Homo sapiens: one gene and its partner. The protein of the gene in region 1 interacts with the protein of each later gene in a pairwise test. Each region holds a gene or a part of one and is shown on either strand. Other genes may lie near its edges.

Region 1 (3,821 bases):
CTTACAGTTCTTAACAACTGCATCGTTTTCCATTCAGTCCTCTGTTGACATTGAGGTTTCCAGTTTTCCACATTCGTGAATGATGGTGTGCATCTTTGAACATGGGTCCTTGCCTGCCTAAGTATTTTTGTAGGTTGATCATTGTAAACTTGGAAAGCACAAAGACAGAAGCCAGGCTTGCTGACTCTTGACTGATGTTGCCCCAGTGATGTCACTCCTGCAAAATGCAAAGCCTGCGTCCTGGCTGTCGGAGCATGTGTGGACATTTGGCAGCTTCTTTCTCTTCCCTCCTGCTCTTCTGTTTGTTTTGATTGGGAAGGATATGGAGTGGGGATGGAGAAGGGTGTTGAGTAATTATCGATGGTTTCTGTATGTTTATTGCTCCTGACTAGCAGTGCTGGGTTTCTTCTCTCAGAGGAAAGCTGAAAGAGATTGCTTTGCTTTTTTCCAGAGTTTTAAAATCAGAGGTGTGTGTCTCGAGTGTATTTTCAGACTTTTTTGTTAGCTTTAATCATGTAAAACATGCAAAAAAAAAAAAAGCATGTGGAAACAATTTTTTTTTTTTGAGACGGGTTCTCGCTCTGTCACACAGGCTGGAGTGCTGTGGGGCGATCTCGGCTCACTGCAACCACCGCCTCCCATGCTCAAGTGATCCTCCCACCTCAGCCTCCTGAGTAGCTGGGACCACAGGTGTGCATCACCACACCTGGCTAATTTTTTTGTGTTTTTGGTAGAGATGGGGTTTCACCATGTTGCCCAGGCTGGTCTCTTATCTGCTGACCTCAGGTGATCTGCCTGCCTCACCCTCCCAAAGTGCTGGGATTACAGGCATGAGCCACCACACCCGGCCGGAAACAAATTTTTGAAGGAGGCATAGATCTCTGTTGTGCAAAATAGATACTTTTTGTACCACTGGGTCCTAGTTTGTCATTGTTCCTTGCATGATCCCATCAGATTTGTCTACAGAGCTGCTGGGGCATGATGGTGTGGTGGCGTATTAAGAACGCAGGTTAGTGGCACACAGATGAAATAAATGCATGTGGGGTGCATTTTTAAGATAGCAGGTGCAAAGTTGTATATACTGAGACCAGGCATTAACACTTGCCTATTACAGTGCCTTTTAAAACACTATGTGAGGGCCGGGTGCAATGGCTCACACCTGTAATCCCAGCACTTTGGGAGGCCTAGGTGGGCAGATCACCTGAGGTCAGGAGATCGAGACCAGCCTGGCCAACGTGGCGAAACCCCGTCTCTCCTAAAAATACAAAAAATTAGCCAGTCGTGGTGGCATGCACCTGTAATCCGAGGTACTAGGGACGCTGAGGTAGGAGAATCGCTTGAAGCTGCGAGGCAGAGGTTGCAGTGAGCTGAGATCACACCACTGCACTCCAGCCTGGGCAACAGAGAAAGAGATTCCGACTCAAAAAAAAAAAAAACAAAAAAAAAAAAAACAAAACTGGACCAAATGAAACAAGTGAATCTGATCTGCAGTCAGTCAGTTTGCAACCCCTGGGAAGCCTTGGACTTGAATGCAAAGATCCCTTGAACTTGGATCTAGTTTGCCTCTGCTGCTCACATGCACATTTAGAGATGGCCAAGGCATACGGTGTTTCTGCTTCCAAGAAACAGAGTGGTTGTCCTGTTTAGCCATCTCTTACAGTCACACAGCTTAAAGAAGATAATGTTTGCAAACAATTTTTGAAATGTCTAGCACACAGCAAACAGAAGGTCAAATTCAGTACTTAATGCTGATAAAATAAGAGAACCCTTGCAAGTCATGTTGCCTGCTTTCTGCCACAGAGAGTACTGCAATAGAACTTTCTGACGTTTTCATGTTGTTTATTTATTTATTTTTTGAGACAGAGTCTTGCTCTTGTGCCCAGGCTGGAGTGCAGTGGTACAATTTCTGCTCACTGCAACCTCTGCCTCTGGGTTCAAGCAATTCTTGGGCCTCAGCCACCCAAGTAGCTGGAATTATAGGTGCGCTCTACCACACCTGGCTAATTTTTGTGTTTCTAGTAGAGACAGGGTTTCACCATGTTGCCCAGGCTGGTCTTGAACCCCTGGGCTCAAGCAATCCACCCACCTCAGCCTCCCAAAGTGCTGGGACTACAGGCGTGCATCGTGACGCCCTGCTGATTTGTGTATTTTTAGTAGAGACGGGGTTCACCTTGTGCTGGTCTCAAACTCCTGGGCTCAAGCAATCTGCCCACCTCAGTCTGCCAAAGTGCTGGGATTACAGGCGTGAGCCATCGTGCCCGGCCTCTCTCTGACATTTTTGAATGGCAAAGGCAAAAATCTTATACTTTTAAGGATGTGGAGAAATAGGAACACTTTTACACTGTTGGTGGGACTGTAAACTAGTTCAACCATTGTAGAAGTCAGTGTGGTGATTCCTCAGGGATCTAGAACTGGAAATACCATTTGACCCAGCCATCGCATTACTGGGTATATACCCAAAGGACTATAAATCATGCTTCTATAAAGACACATGCACACGTATGTTTATTGCGGCATTATTCACAATAGCAAAGACTTGGAACCAACCCAAATGTCCAGCAATGATAGACTGGATTAAGAAAACGTGGCACATATACACCATGGAATACTATGCAGCCATAAAAAATGATGAGTTCATGTCCTTTGTAGGGACATGGATGAAATTGGAAATCATCATTCTCAGTAAACTATTGCAAGAACAAAAAACCAAACACCGCATATTCTCACTCATAGGTGGGAATTGAACAACGAGAACACATGGACACAGGAAGGGGAACATCACACTCTGGGGACTGTTGTGGGGTGGGGGGAGGGGGGAGGGATAGCATTGGGAGATATACCTAATGCTAGATGACGAGTTAGTGGGTGCAGCACACCAGCATGGCACATGTATACATATGTAACTAACCTGCACATTGTGCACATGTACCCTAAAACTTAAAGTATAATAATAATAAAGAAAAAGAAAAAAAAAGATTGCTGTTTTATGATAAAGTGAAGTGCAGCTGTTACTTCTTCCTTCTTTGCTTCCAGCATCTCTCTTCCCTAAGGATTGCTTTTAAAATGTAAGAGTTTTTGGTTGAAATGCTGTTCCTGTGGTTTTTGTCTCTTGGTTGGAGTGAAAGATTTTGCAGGCTGTGATACAAATCCAGTTCTCTGCTTATTTTCTCCTCAGTCCTTGAAATCCAAAACCAGATCCCTCCCATTGGCCCGTTGTAATTAGAACCTGCCCCACAATAGACGCACCTCCTAAAGCATCTCAGATTCATTTCTTTCCTGAGGATTAAGTTTTTAAACCTTCCTGGCCAAGATAACAGTGTTTTAAGAGGCTCTTTTCTTTTATTATTATTATTATTATTATTACTCTTTTCTTTTTTTGAGATGGAGTCTTGCTCTGTCACCCAGGCTGGAGTGCAGTGGCAGGATCTCTGCTCACTGGAACCTCCACCTCCCGGGTTCAAGAGTTTCTTCTGTTTCAGCCTCCTGAGTAGATGGGATTACAGGCATGTGCCACCATGCCCAGCTAATTTTTGTATTTTTAGCAGAGATGGGGTTTTACCATGTTGGCCAGGCTGGTCTCGAACTCCTGGCTTCAAGTGATCTACCCGCTGTGGCCTCCCAAAGTATCAGGATTACAGGCATGAGCCACAGCACCCTGCCAGGCTTGGGTGTTCAAGGAAGAGAAAGAAGGCAGTGTGGCTGGGACATAAGTGAATGAGAGGTGGTAGGGTAAGAAATGTGTAGAAAACTATGCAGGGGCCTGATCACATTGGATCTTGCACATCTTTTTCCAAACCTCAGGAGGAGTCATTCTGCTTTTG
Region 2 (3,821 bases), on another chromosome or scaffold:
CAAACTTTTTTCTGTATATATTTATTTGTTAAATTTGTATTGATGCCCTCCTTTAGTGTAGACTTTCTATTAAGAACTGGAAACAGAGCCAAACAAAACTTTTTTTTTTTTTTTTTTTTGAGAAAGGGTCTCTGACTCCCAGGCTGGAGAGCAGTGGCACAGTCATGGCATACTGCACCCTCAACCTCCCAGATTCAAGCAACCCTCCCACCTCAGCCTCCTGAGTAGCTGCGACTACAGACACATGCCAACACACCCAGCTAATTTTTGTATTTCTTGTAGAGACAGCATTTTGCCATGTTGCCCAAGGTGGTCTCAAACTCCTGAGCTCAAGCGATCCTCCCAACTCGGCCTCCAAAAGTGCTGGGAATATGGGCAGGAGTCACTGCACCTGGCCCAAACAGAACTTTTGTCTTTATGTAGCGCACCACAAACATAAATACTTGGGGTTTTTTTTTTTTATTTAATAGGATCATAGACATACTTAACTTGATCTTATTTCCACATTAGGATTCTTGTGTTTCTCAAATTCAAAATAAAGGGAAAGGTTTTGGTTTTTTTTTTTTTTTTACCAACCCTTGTTTCTCCTCTTTTCCTCAGAGATTACCTAAGCAAATTGAAGAACGTAATGAAAGACTAAAAGAAGAGATGTTAGGTAAGCTTACTTCTTACTTTGCTTGATCATAAACAGCTAGGAACCTAGGGTGGGGACATAGCGAATACTAGAGGAGAACACATGAGTTAGAAAGTTTCGGACTCTACCACAAGGCTACTGACTTCTGAGTTATTTTGACCCCAGAAGGGGCAGCGTGGCTTAGAGAGGGTATTGGCTTTTTTTGGAAACCAGATTTCCTTTTTGATTTTCTTGGAAATTTTTCTTGCCTGCAAGAATTTAAGCATAATTCAGTTCCCTGGGATTATGCTTAAATGGGATTTAAAATCCTAGGATACCACCAACCTCGATTTCAGATAACAATTACATAAAAACAGTTTAGTTTCTTCATTGAATAATCATTCCTTGAGGTTCATTAGGATGCAGTCAAGATCATGAGAATTTTTATTTAGAAAATGGCACTCAAAGTCCCTTTAGTGTTTGAGAACACACGAGAGGGCAGGAATTAGGAGTAAAGAGAAATCAGACTGGGGGTAGGGGTAGGGCAAATGGATTCATTTGATCCATGTTTAGTTATTTCTCATATTTGCCAAAGCATTTTAGAGTTGGAACCTCCCACGAGCAATCTGCTTAAGTAAGAGGAGTGAGGGTTCCTGAACACAGACTTAAGTCTTTTCCACATGTAACCTGTCTGATATTTCGCTGGTGAAGATCTGCCATGTATTTTCCTTTTTGAGTATTTTCTAAATCTGTTGTTTGAATTACATTTTATAAACTGCAATCATGTGGCCCTAAAGGAAAAATCATTTAAAATAAATTGAGCCTGTCTGGCATTTATGGCCTTCAGACATCAGCATCCAGACAATGGGAACAAATTTCCCAAAGGATCATTCTGATAGCCAAGTTGATTGAGAGGAGGCCATTAACCTAGACTATCCAGAGACTTTGGCCCCTGCCGGGTAGACTCAGACTGTAAAGACGGCTGCTTCCGATTCAGGATAGCTCTGGAGCCTTCCCCAGATTTTCCAAAAAAGGGAGGGGGATGGGGGAGCTTTTCCCCTAATTTACATATTTAATTAAACTTGGCCAGGCACGGTGGCTCCTGTAATCCCAGCACTTTAGGAGGCCAAGGTAGGAGGATTGCTTGAGCCCAGGAGTTCAAGGCCAGCCTAGGCAACATGGTGAAACCCCATCTCCACAAAAAATTAGTCAGGCATGGTGGCATGTGCCTGCCCATAGTCCCAGCTACATGGGAGGATCACTTGAGCCCAAGGGTTAGAGGCTGCAGTGAGCTATGATGGTGCCACCACACTCCAGACTGGGCAACAGAGCATGACCCTGTCTCAAAGAAGAGGGAAAAGAGCATTTTCTCACCTATTTTTACTAACAATGATGCTCTATTTTAGCAAAAAAAAAAAAAAAAAAAAAAAAAACTGTTTGCATTTAGTATTTGAATTTCTTGCTAAAAAAGATGACCTTGTGAATGGCCATAGTGGATCTGGAAGGCATTGGTCTCTTAGTCCATTTTTTTAAAGCCAGTCCAGTAAAGGGACTGGTGCAAACTGAATCTTACTGCCTATTGTTAGTTCCAGATGGAATTAAAACTTCCATTTGTCCTTGTCTTTATAAATTCTAATGCACCAGAATTTTCTGTCTCCAAGGCTTTGGGTTTTTCTTATGTCATTCTCTTCATTTGAAAAAATTCAAATTGAATTCATTCCCTCGGTTGCTTCTAAAATGAATTCACCTGCCATTAGACTTAACCAACTTAAGTTGCTTTGTAAATAATATGTGTTGTTACACATGTGTAGTTTGAATGGCTAGATTCCTTTTTTCCCTTAATGAGTATAAAAATCATGAATAAGATACTGCTCTAGGTGTTACCCCACAATAGATAACCTAGAAGAGAGAAATCACTCTTTACATGGAATTTCAGCCCCCACAAGAGCTTTTCTGGTATTCCTTCCTCCTTGTTGCTGATGAGGTAACTTTGGTTCATGTTCTGTGAGATTCCCTAGAGGCTAGACATTCTGAATGCAAATTAATATCACTTAGAAGTTCTGAGCAAGCTTTTCACAGTGGACTGCATCATCTTTATGCTAGTTCCTGTTAAAATGATGGCTTCTATGGAGAATAAGCAGTTAAAAATTTTTTAAATTGGGTAGTGTGGGCTGGGTGTGGTGGCTCACACCTGTAATCCCAGCAATTTGGGAGGCTGAGCCCGAGTTCAAGACCAGCCTGGGCAACATGGCAAAATCCTGTCACTAAAAAAATTAGCCAGGTGTGCTGGTGTGCACCTGTAGTCCCAGCTACTTAGGAGGCTGCTGTGGGAGGATCACTTGAGCCCAGGAGATCGAGACTTCAGTGAGCCACAATGATGCCACTGCACTCAAGCCTGGGTGACAGAGTGAGACCTTGTCTTTAAAAAAAAAGAAAATTATAAAATCAGGTAGTGTGATGCCTATGCCTGTAGCTTTTGTTCTTTTTATTCAGGATCACTTTAGCTTTCAGAGTCTTTTGTGGTTCCATACAAATTTTAGGATTTTTCTATTTCTGTGAAGAATGTCATTGGTGTTTTGACAGGGATTACATTGAATCTGTGGATCACCTTGAGTAGTACAAAATGGGTTTTTATTTAGATGTGTTCAGTATTCTTTAACTTGTTTTTTCTTCCATCTCTGTAATTTCCTTTTCATTAGAAAGAAGAGCTATGTACTCCTTGAGGGAAAAAATCCTGATAGGAATTATTAGTGGGTAGAACAATTATTTGCTTTGCCCTTTCTAGCCCATCATTTATAATCTTTAGAACAAGAGACCCAGGGTGGCCATTAGTCCTAGTGGCACAGTCCTTGCTGATCACAGAAGATGATCGTGATAGCATCAAGACGATCACTTGAGGAAAGTGGTCAGCAGCTGGAGTGGGGGTTGGTTGTTTTTGTTTGTTTGTTTGTTTGTTTGGTCCTTTTCTCTGGGATAATTAGCCTCCCAGCCATAATAACCAAGGAATGTAAGGTTTAAAAGGACTTAAGGGTATGTGTGGTTGATAGTGTGATGAGATGGAAATAGAGACCCTGGACATAGCATCCCAGGAGGCTCAGAGCATTTTTGAGGAGCTAGTCATTGATGCTTTATTTGCTTTCTCTCTAATGGAATGATTTCACAGTTTTCTTAAATAGCTGGGAAAAAAGTTGGCTGGGTACAGTAGCTC

Evidence for each region.
Region 2: the proteins of NDE1 (region 1) and TTC1 interact in a two-hybrid assay, tested with the Homo sapiens proteins (one large-scale study listed by BioGRID).

What each region holds. Positions count from the first base shown.
Region 1 is NC_000016.10:15,653,181-15,657,001, forward strand, and holds part of NDE1 (nuclear distribution protein nudE homolog 1), read left to right. Parts: intron 1-3,821. UniProt on the Homo sapiens protein: Required for centrosome duplication and formation and function of the mitotic spindle. Essential for the development of the cerebral cortex.
Region 2 is NC_000005.10:160,050,529-160,054,349, forward strand, and holds part of TTC1 (tetratricopeptide repeat protein 1), read left to right. Parts: intron 1-600; coding exon 601-655; intron 656-3,821.